Homo sapiens: one gene and its partner. The protein of the gene in region 1 interacts with the protein of each later gene in a biochemical or structural test. Each region holds a gene or a part of one and is shown on either strand. Other genes may lie near its edges.

Region 1 (4,294 bases):
AAAATAAAGAATACTCAGGGGAAAGGAAGAGACTGGCCAGATTAGAGTAGAAATTAAGCCTGAAGGGCACTGGACAGATCATGTTTGTCCCTGATCCTGAGAGCCCTAGGAAGGGCCAGTTTGGGGATCACTGGTTCCTCCTACTGCTCTCTTTTGGAGGGTGGAGATCTTGGGGGTAATACCCTGAAAGCACAGTGCAATGGGGAGCCCAGCCTTGGCCCAGAAAGATACCTTTACAGCCAGCCAGCCAAGTGTTTAAACCCGGAAATATGATTCCCTACCAGAGTGGGATATGGCTCAACATCCCTTCCCACCTCATACTCCTCTGGCACTCTTTGGAGTCTCCATTAGCTCTTCAAGAGAAGCTGGGCAGAAAGTTGAGGTCCAAAGCAAGGATAGATGTATTTACTCAAAGTGGCCCAACAAGTTACGGATGGAGCCAGGACAGTGACTCTGCCCTTTTGATTTCAGAGCTTGTGTGTTTCTGGTCTGGCCAGAGCTGGCTATTCTCTTCTTAGTGTCCTATTAGTGCATGTGTTCATTCAACACAAGAGATGGAGCACCATTTGAGGGCTGGAGGGTGTCAGGGCCCTGTCCTCAGGGAGCTCCCCTTCTGGTGGGAAAGAAAACTCTTTGACAATCAGCTCTCCCTAAAGATGACTGAAGGTGACCATCACTCCCAGAGAAGTGCAGGCCTCACCTGCAAAGGCAAAGGAGAGATCTTGCCTTGATTCGGGAGTGGGAGCGGGGAGCAGAGGAAGACCTCCAGGGGAAGGCACAGGATCCCTATGGGCTGACTTTCCTGAGAATGGCGCATGGGCAGACGGAGTGGGGACAGGGGCCACTGGTATTGTAGGCACCTGGAATTAGGACCCCTTCTCTTTGTGGGGTGAGTGTTTCGACGTTCATTACCTTATTTCATCTTAGCAACACTCGTGGGAAGATAGTAGAGATATTTTAAGATCTTAAAATGCCCATTTTAAAGCTGGGAAAACAGACTCTCCGGTGGCGTGCTGTAGACCACAAACTGAATTAAGAACGCCAGTGTTCTGATTCCATCCATCTGCGGAGTTCCGGGCACGCACCGCCGAGCGCCTTACCCTGAGCCTTCCCGGTACCCGCAGCCCCGACAGCTCAGCCTTCCCCACCTGAAAGTTCCACCTGAGGTCTCCCTCAACTCTGCCCTCCTGCATTCTTGGCGTCGCGGGGAGTCAGGGGTTAAACCCCGTGGCCCGCGTGGCCCCTTCCCCCTCCGCAGCCCCCTCGCCTCCACTCGGCGCCGCGCCTGGAGCGTCCGTCCCGGAGACCCGCACAAGAGAGGAGGGGAAAAAGTGGGCCTGTTTCTCGGGTGGCCAATCCACCGAGCCCGCGGTGCCCCAGAGGAGGCGCCAGCGCTAGGCCAGCGCCAGGCCGGGCTGCCTGCTTCCCGCGGCAAAGTACAAATGCGCCCGAGCGCGGCGCCTGAAGCCCTTGGCGAGCACAGCCGGCCCGCGCTCAGCCTCCCTCCGCGGCCGCCGCGCCGCCGCCGCTGCTGGGACCGCCGCCCCGCCGGGCCCCAGGCCCCCGCGGCCCGACCCCGAGCCCACCGAGCAGGGGGCGCCGGCCGCCTCTAGCCCGCGCGCCCGCAACACCCGCTGGTCCCGCGCGCCTCGCCCGGCGCTGCGCGCTCGGCAGACGCCGGTCCTCTCCCTGCTTTCTCCTCCTCTCCCTCTCACCTTCCCCCTTTCTTTGATCGCCTCTCCCTTCTGCTGGACCTTCCTTCGTCTCTCCATCTCTCCCTCCTTTCCCCGCGTTCTCTTTCCACCTTTCTCTTCTTCCCACCTTAGACCTCCCTTCCTGCCCTCCTTTCCTGCCCACCGCTGCTTCCTGGCCCTTCTCCGACCCCGCTCTAGCAGCAGACCTCCTGGGGTCTGTGGGTTGATCTGTGGCCCCTGTGCCTCCGTGTCCTTTTCGTCTCCCTTCCTCCCGACTCCGCTCCCGGACCAGCGGCCTGACCCTGGGGAAAGGATGGTTCCCGAGGTGAGGGTCCTCTCCTCCTTGCTGGGACTCGCGCTGCTCTGGTTCCCCCTGGACTCCCACGCTCGAGCCCGTAAGTAGACCGGGAGGCTGGGTGGGCAGAGGAGGGATGCGGCCCCTGGAATGTGAGGGACAGCGCCAGGACCTGGACCCCAAGCTCTTCTGACAGCCGTCCAGGCAGCACCTGTGCCGGAGGGGTGGAGACTCCGTGAGGACCAGTATGGGCCGGGGGACCGGAGGAACTCGGCACAACTCAGAACTGAGAGAGGGCTGCTGCCAGGGACCTGAGGAGGGGCACCAAGGGCAGCGGGGGGAGAGGGCAGGGCACTGTGTTTTGGGTTGGGGGAGGACTTACTGTTCCTAGGAGGGAGTCGGGTATGTCTGGCTACAGGTAAGGAGTGTGATGGAGAAGAAAAGGCTTTTTGCCTTTGGAAAGAGCCATTGGACAGAAATGAGAGGTAATTAGGATAACCTTCCCATTCTTTTCTCTCTTTTGATCCTCGCAACTCTCCAGTGAGGTGGGTATTATCATTCGCACTTTACAGATGAGAAAACTTAGGCTGAGCAAGGAGGAACTTGCTAAAACTTACAGAGCGGGTAAGCCATCCAAAGCCAGAACTCTAGTTCCAGATCCCATGCTTTATTCCCTGCCTCACATTGTCTAGAAGGAACCCTGAATTTGCAGTGTGAGACTCTGGGAGGCGGCAGGGCACAGTGAGATAGACCAGCGTCTTCACCATCCCAGCCCCGCTGAATGCCAGCTGCTGGGAGGCCGTCACAGAGTGCACCTCTCTGACCCTGGGTTTCCTAATCTATAAAGCGGAAGTAAAAATCCTAGGAGAGTTGATAGGATTAAATTAGAGAAAAGAGGTAAAGCAGCTAGCACAAGACTGGTGCTTGATAGCTTCCAAAAAAAATCAGTTCCCAATTATGCTTTTCCACATAGATACAGTGTAACATCAAACAGGTTACATCATCAATCTGAGCCTCAGTTTCCTCACTGCGCCCACAATAGGCTGGTGGTCCCCCCTCCCCATGCCCAGCCAATCTCTTAGAATGCTGTGAGGATGGAAAACCAAACCACATTCTCTTAATCAGAAGAAAGGAGCTTCATTCAAGCAGTGGGTTTCTCCAGGACATACATGGCACAGCCTGGGATTAAGACCCTGCGTTCCCAACTCCTAGTCTGGTGCTCTTTCCTCTCCCCAGCTCAGCTCCTCCATCTATGCCTTTCTTTTGCACGTGACATTCTGGAGCTGGTAGTGCTGGACTTTGTTACGGTCTTGTTTCTGCTCATGAGAGCAGGCTGAGTGTCTCTGGCCTGCCAGCAGCATGAGACTCACATAAGTCTTTCCATTACATAGAACAAGTAATGGAATTAGCTCAGTGTTGTATTCAAATCCTGGCCGTGCCCCTTAGAGCTGTGTGACTTTTTGTAAGTCATAACTTCTCTGAGCCTCAATTTCCTAATCTGTCTAAGAGAGATACTAATCCAGAACTTGCAGGGTTCTTGGGAGGATTAAAGGAGGTAACGGATTAAAGTGCCCAGCACAATGCTGTGTACTTAATAAATGTCTCTTCCGCTTTCTTGAACCCTGAGGGTTTCCTCCTAACACCTGCCTCCTATTTCTTAAAAGAGACTTTGCACAGGATGCCCTCCATGCCTGCCTCCCATCCACTTGACACCTTGTTCTTAGTCCCTGCAATTTTTTCTCCAGATATCATTGCCCTTGATGCATCTTGGAAAGATGTCCTAGAACCAGACTGTTATCCTACCCACACCCTGCTTCTTTGCTTCCCATATCTTGTCAGCCTTTCATGGCCTTGCCTAGGTCACACCTCTTCAAGCAAACTCTCCCCGGTGACTTGATCCACTCTGATCTCCCTCGTCTGTGCCTCCCTGGCCTTCAGCTCTGTACCTCTCAGCAGGTCCTGCCAGTATTCCATCTTCCCTACAGCCTTGTAAATACAGATCTCCAGACATGTGAGAAAAAGACTTGGAGCCAACTCATTAGGGTGAGGTGGACTGGCACTCATTGGAGAATGTTAAGATTCCTGGATGTTAGAGCTGGTGAAACTATCAAAAACCATCTGCTTCTACCCATCAATATACCTATACTTAGAGTTAAATTGAAGCCCAGAAGAGAAGAGTGACTTGCCCAAGGTCACACAGCAAATTTATTAAAGAAAAGAACAAAAGCCAGGCACAGTGGTACACACCTGTAGTTCCAGTCACCAGCTACTTGGGAGGCTGAGAGGGAGAGGAACCCTTGAGCTC
Region 2 (3,804 bases), on another chromosome or scaffold:
CGATGCCTCACTGATGGGCACACAGCACCAACTGCCTGCATAGCTAAAGCCTGCCCTCATTCCAGGGCTAAATTTAAAACAAAATTAAATTAAAGGAGCCACTTTTAATGGAACTCCTTCTGAACCACACCACAGGCTCCCACTCGCTTAATTAAATGGAGAATGCAGGGCGAGAGCTTTTCTTGCTGACGGAGGACGTGGTGATTGTCCTGTGAGGCGAGGTGACCAGGTGTGGAGGGACGTGGGCCGTCTGCCAGGGCCGACCCGGGACCCAAGGCCCGACCACGCCTCTGCGTGGAGCACCCTCCCCCTCCACCTGTCAGACGGCTCGCCTGGGTGCTGGGCTCTGTGTCCTGTTTTATAAACAGGTGGACCCGAGGGGGGCTGTTTCCTAATGACCCTCCCCGTCTTTCTTTTCATAAAAAGCCCTTTTTGGGTTCAGGCTGTTCTAGATAGCTGAAATGGTGGAAAATCTGGCTTCTGGCGATTTCTATAGTCACCACAGAAGACTTTGATCTTTAAAAAAGCCCTTTAAACTCCAATGTACGCCCGCGTCACTAGGGATCTTGTTAAAATGCAGATTCTGTCCCAGGTCTGGGTGGAGCCCAGGACTCTGCATTCCAACTAGCCCAGGGCAACCCCAATGCTGCCGGCCCTGGGGCCGCACCCCAGGCTGGGACGTGTCAGGGCCGTGCAGGGCAGGCAGGGAGGCTCTGGGGGCTGAGGGTGGCGCCTCCTCCCTCCACTGCACCAGGGCAAGGTCCTTCAATCCACGGGGCCCCTCTGGACCTGGGCCAGGCCCGTTTACTGCCCTTGGAGGGCACTGAACACGGACCCCCCACTTTCCCAGCAGCAGGGCCAAGCTGACCCTCACAAGGGGTTCACTTTCTGCTGGGCTGGGGCGGCCCCTCTGGAGACAGGCGACCGTGGGGCCTCCCAGGCCCCCTCATCACAAACATCGCTTCCCCCTCCTTAGGAAGCCTGCTTTGGTCTCCCAGAGAAGCCTGTGCTCTGTGAGTCTCTGTGTTAAGATTCGCAGCACTTAATACTCCCCCTTCCCTCCCTGCCTCCTTCCCTCTTTCCTTTTCCTCTATTACCGACCGCACAGCAGCTTCTGTGCCTCCCATCTGCCTGAACTGTGGGGGTGCAGGAGGGGCCCATCTGGATTAAGGTGCCCTGAGGGCAGGCGCCCTCTCCCTCGGTGACAGAGGGATGATTAGGAGCGTGGGAACCTGGGCAAATCGCCGCTCACAGAGCCTCAGTTTCTCATCTGTAAAGGGGGATATGAAAGGCTCTCCCTACCGCGTGTTGTGTGGGCTACGATGACACAGAGGGCCCTGCTCAGGGCAGCACTCGGGGTGGGGGGAGAGCAGGCACCGGCGCTGCCTGATGGTGACAAAGGTGACGATGACATACAGGACCCTGCTCAGGGCAGCACTCGGGGTGGGGGGAGAGCAGGCACCGGCGCTGCCTGATGGTGACGAAGGTGACGATGACGTCCTGCTGTGTCCAGTGCAGGACGGCCTCACTCACCGGTGGGTCTGAGCGCACGGGAGCGCGGATGGAGGGAGGAAGGAAGGGCTCACCTGTCCAGGTGGAAGGCAGCAATCTCCGCATTGTGCCTCTCGTAGTCAGAGAAATAAAAAAAGTCAGGGGGTGTCTCCTGCTCCCTCGTTTGTCTGAGAAAACAAGACAGAAACAGAAACGGTTTGTCACTGAGAAAGCCTCCAGGGGCCGGAGGCAGGCGGGACGTGCTGGGTTCCTCATATGAAAAATGCGGTGGAGCTCCAGCCTCCTCAGGGCCACCCTGAGCCTTCGGGACCCTGGGCACCCAGCTGCCGACGGGCCCTCAGAGCAGCGCAGGCACGTGCGACGGAGGCCGGGGGTCCCAGCTCCCCGTGGCCCTGACCCAGCTGCCGACGGGCCCTCAGAGCAGCGCAGGCCCTTGCGACGGAGGCCGGAGGTCCCAGCTCCCCATGGGCCCTTCTCAGGTAAGCTGCTCAAAGGCCTCTCCTGCACTGGCTGGGGGCCCCGGCACGTCCACCCTGGGACCCACAGTCACACCGCAGGGGAGAGGCTGGGCTCGGTGTCCCAGGCCTGGCTCAGCCCCGGTTTGCTGTGTGCACCCTGGCACCGCCCACCCTCTGGTTTCCGAGTCTCCCCCACGGCCTCCAGGACCCCTTGGCTCTGCCGTGGACGCCTCCCACAGTAAGAGCCCAAGAAGGGCAATGTGGGCACCGCCCTGTCCCTCCACCCTGGCCAAGGGACAGGAGGCCACAGGTGGGGCTGTTTATGAAAGGTCAGTGCCATTCTGTAAACACCATAGGGCTCCTGTATCTCAGGCCAATACTCCAGGGGAAGGGGAGCCTAGCCGCAGGGCCCTGTGAGGTGCCGGTCCACGCAAGTGTTTGACCGATGTGGTCATGGTGGAAACGTGGAGGAATTGTCAAGGTCGTGTCTGAGCATAAGTGTGTAAGCGCGTAAGCGTGTAAGCGTGTAAGCATGCTTCCTCCACCAAGGCCGGCCCCTGCCATGCTTCCCCCACCAAGGCCGGCCCCTGCCTCCACTGGAGGGAGAGCCTGTCCCAGGGCGTCCACCCAGGCCAGGCCCAGGGAGGGAACTCAGCCTCCAACCCAGGCTTCCTCCACCAAGGCTGGCCCCTGCCTCCACTGGAAGGAGAGCCCGTCCCAGGATGTCCTCCCATGCCAGGCCCAGGGAGGGAACTCAGCCCCCAATCCAGGAAGAATTTACCAGATTCAAACTCTGGTGACCTTTCCAGGTGCTGGAAACCAGAGCTGGCGGGAATCCCCAGCTCGCACGCCCTGCAGCCCACACCTCCCACTCAGGGCAGACTGTGTTCCGTCTGGGCTCCAACACTCCAGCAATGCAGACTACAGACGCCGCCCCGGTCACTTTCCCAGCCCTCGGCTTCCCCGGCCGGGTCCTTCCTTCCATATACGCAGCGGAGGTCCGCCCAACTCCTGGGAGCATCCTGGCCCTGCCACGGGCCGACATCATCGCCACACGAACAGCGGGGTGGGGCACAGGTCCTGTATGTCATGTCCACGTCCCTTCGGGGGGACCACGTCTGGGTCACAGGCCGTCAATTACACACCAGCCCGTGGCTCCCGTCCTCCCACGCTGTTCTCAGAAAGCTGTGGCCACAATTCTCCGTGTTCCCGGAACGTTTCTTATGGGGGGTTAAAGATGTGTACCACCCACGGCCTTTTTAAGAACTAGTCTCTGCTGCTAGAAACTCTGAGAACAGACCACTTTCCACGATCCCACATAATATTCGCCTTGACAGGGCCCTGGGTAGGCGCAAGGCCAGATGAGGATTCCAGGAGCTACTTAAAAATAAAATGCGGATGGTGGGCTGGCGCCTGAAGGTCACATTTGCTTCATAACCCCACTGGGTCTGTGGCCATTGCTATCTCTGTGCACTTCTGAAACCAGCAGCAAAGGAGGGTTGGGGTGCAGGGCAGGGCAGTGGCAGGTATGGCGGCAAACTGAACATGCTGCCCGCCAGGGTCGCCCTGCAGAGCCGAGGCCCAGACTGGCCGGGATCCTGAGGTTCAAGAGAAAGAATCTAGACCTTGTGGAATCTCCCGGGTTTTAAGCGCTGGCAAATGGATTTCATTTTTCTAAAACACTAAAGGTCAAACCAAATGGTCCGCTGCAGTCAGCCCGCAGTTCCAGGGGTGGTAAATTCTGGAGTGTTGGATATTTTTGAGGTTAAAAAGCCTTCGTTGTTTTCAACTTGGAAGGATTGGCTTTGAGCAAAACTCATTCCACAGAACACTA

What was found.
Region 2: of the proteins of CHRDL2 (region 1) and FAM20C, one has a biochemical effect on the other in vitro, tested with the Homo sapiens proteins (one large-scale study listed by IntAct).

The regions. Positions count from the first base shown.
Region 1 is NC_000011.10:74,728,602-74,732,895, reverse strand, and holds the start of CHRDL2 (chordin-like protein 2 isoform 2 precursor), read left to right. Parts: upstream 1-1,469; 5' UTR 1,470-2,007; coding exon 2,008-2,089; intron 2,090-4,294. UniProt on the Homo sapiens protein: May inhibit BMPs activity by blocking their interaction with their receptors. Has a negative regulator effect on the cartilage formation/regeneration from immature mesenchymal cells, by preventing or reducing the rate of matrix accumulation.
Region 2 is NC_000007.14:244,290-248,093, reverse strand, and holds part of FAM20C (extracellular serine/threonine protein kinase FAM20C precursor), read right to left. Parts: intron 1,680-3,804; coding exon 1,587-1,679; intron 1-1,586. UniProt on the Homo sapiens protein: Golgi serine/threonine protein kinase that phosphorylates secretory pathway proteins within Ser-x-Glu/pSer motifs and plays a key role in biomineralization of bones and teeth.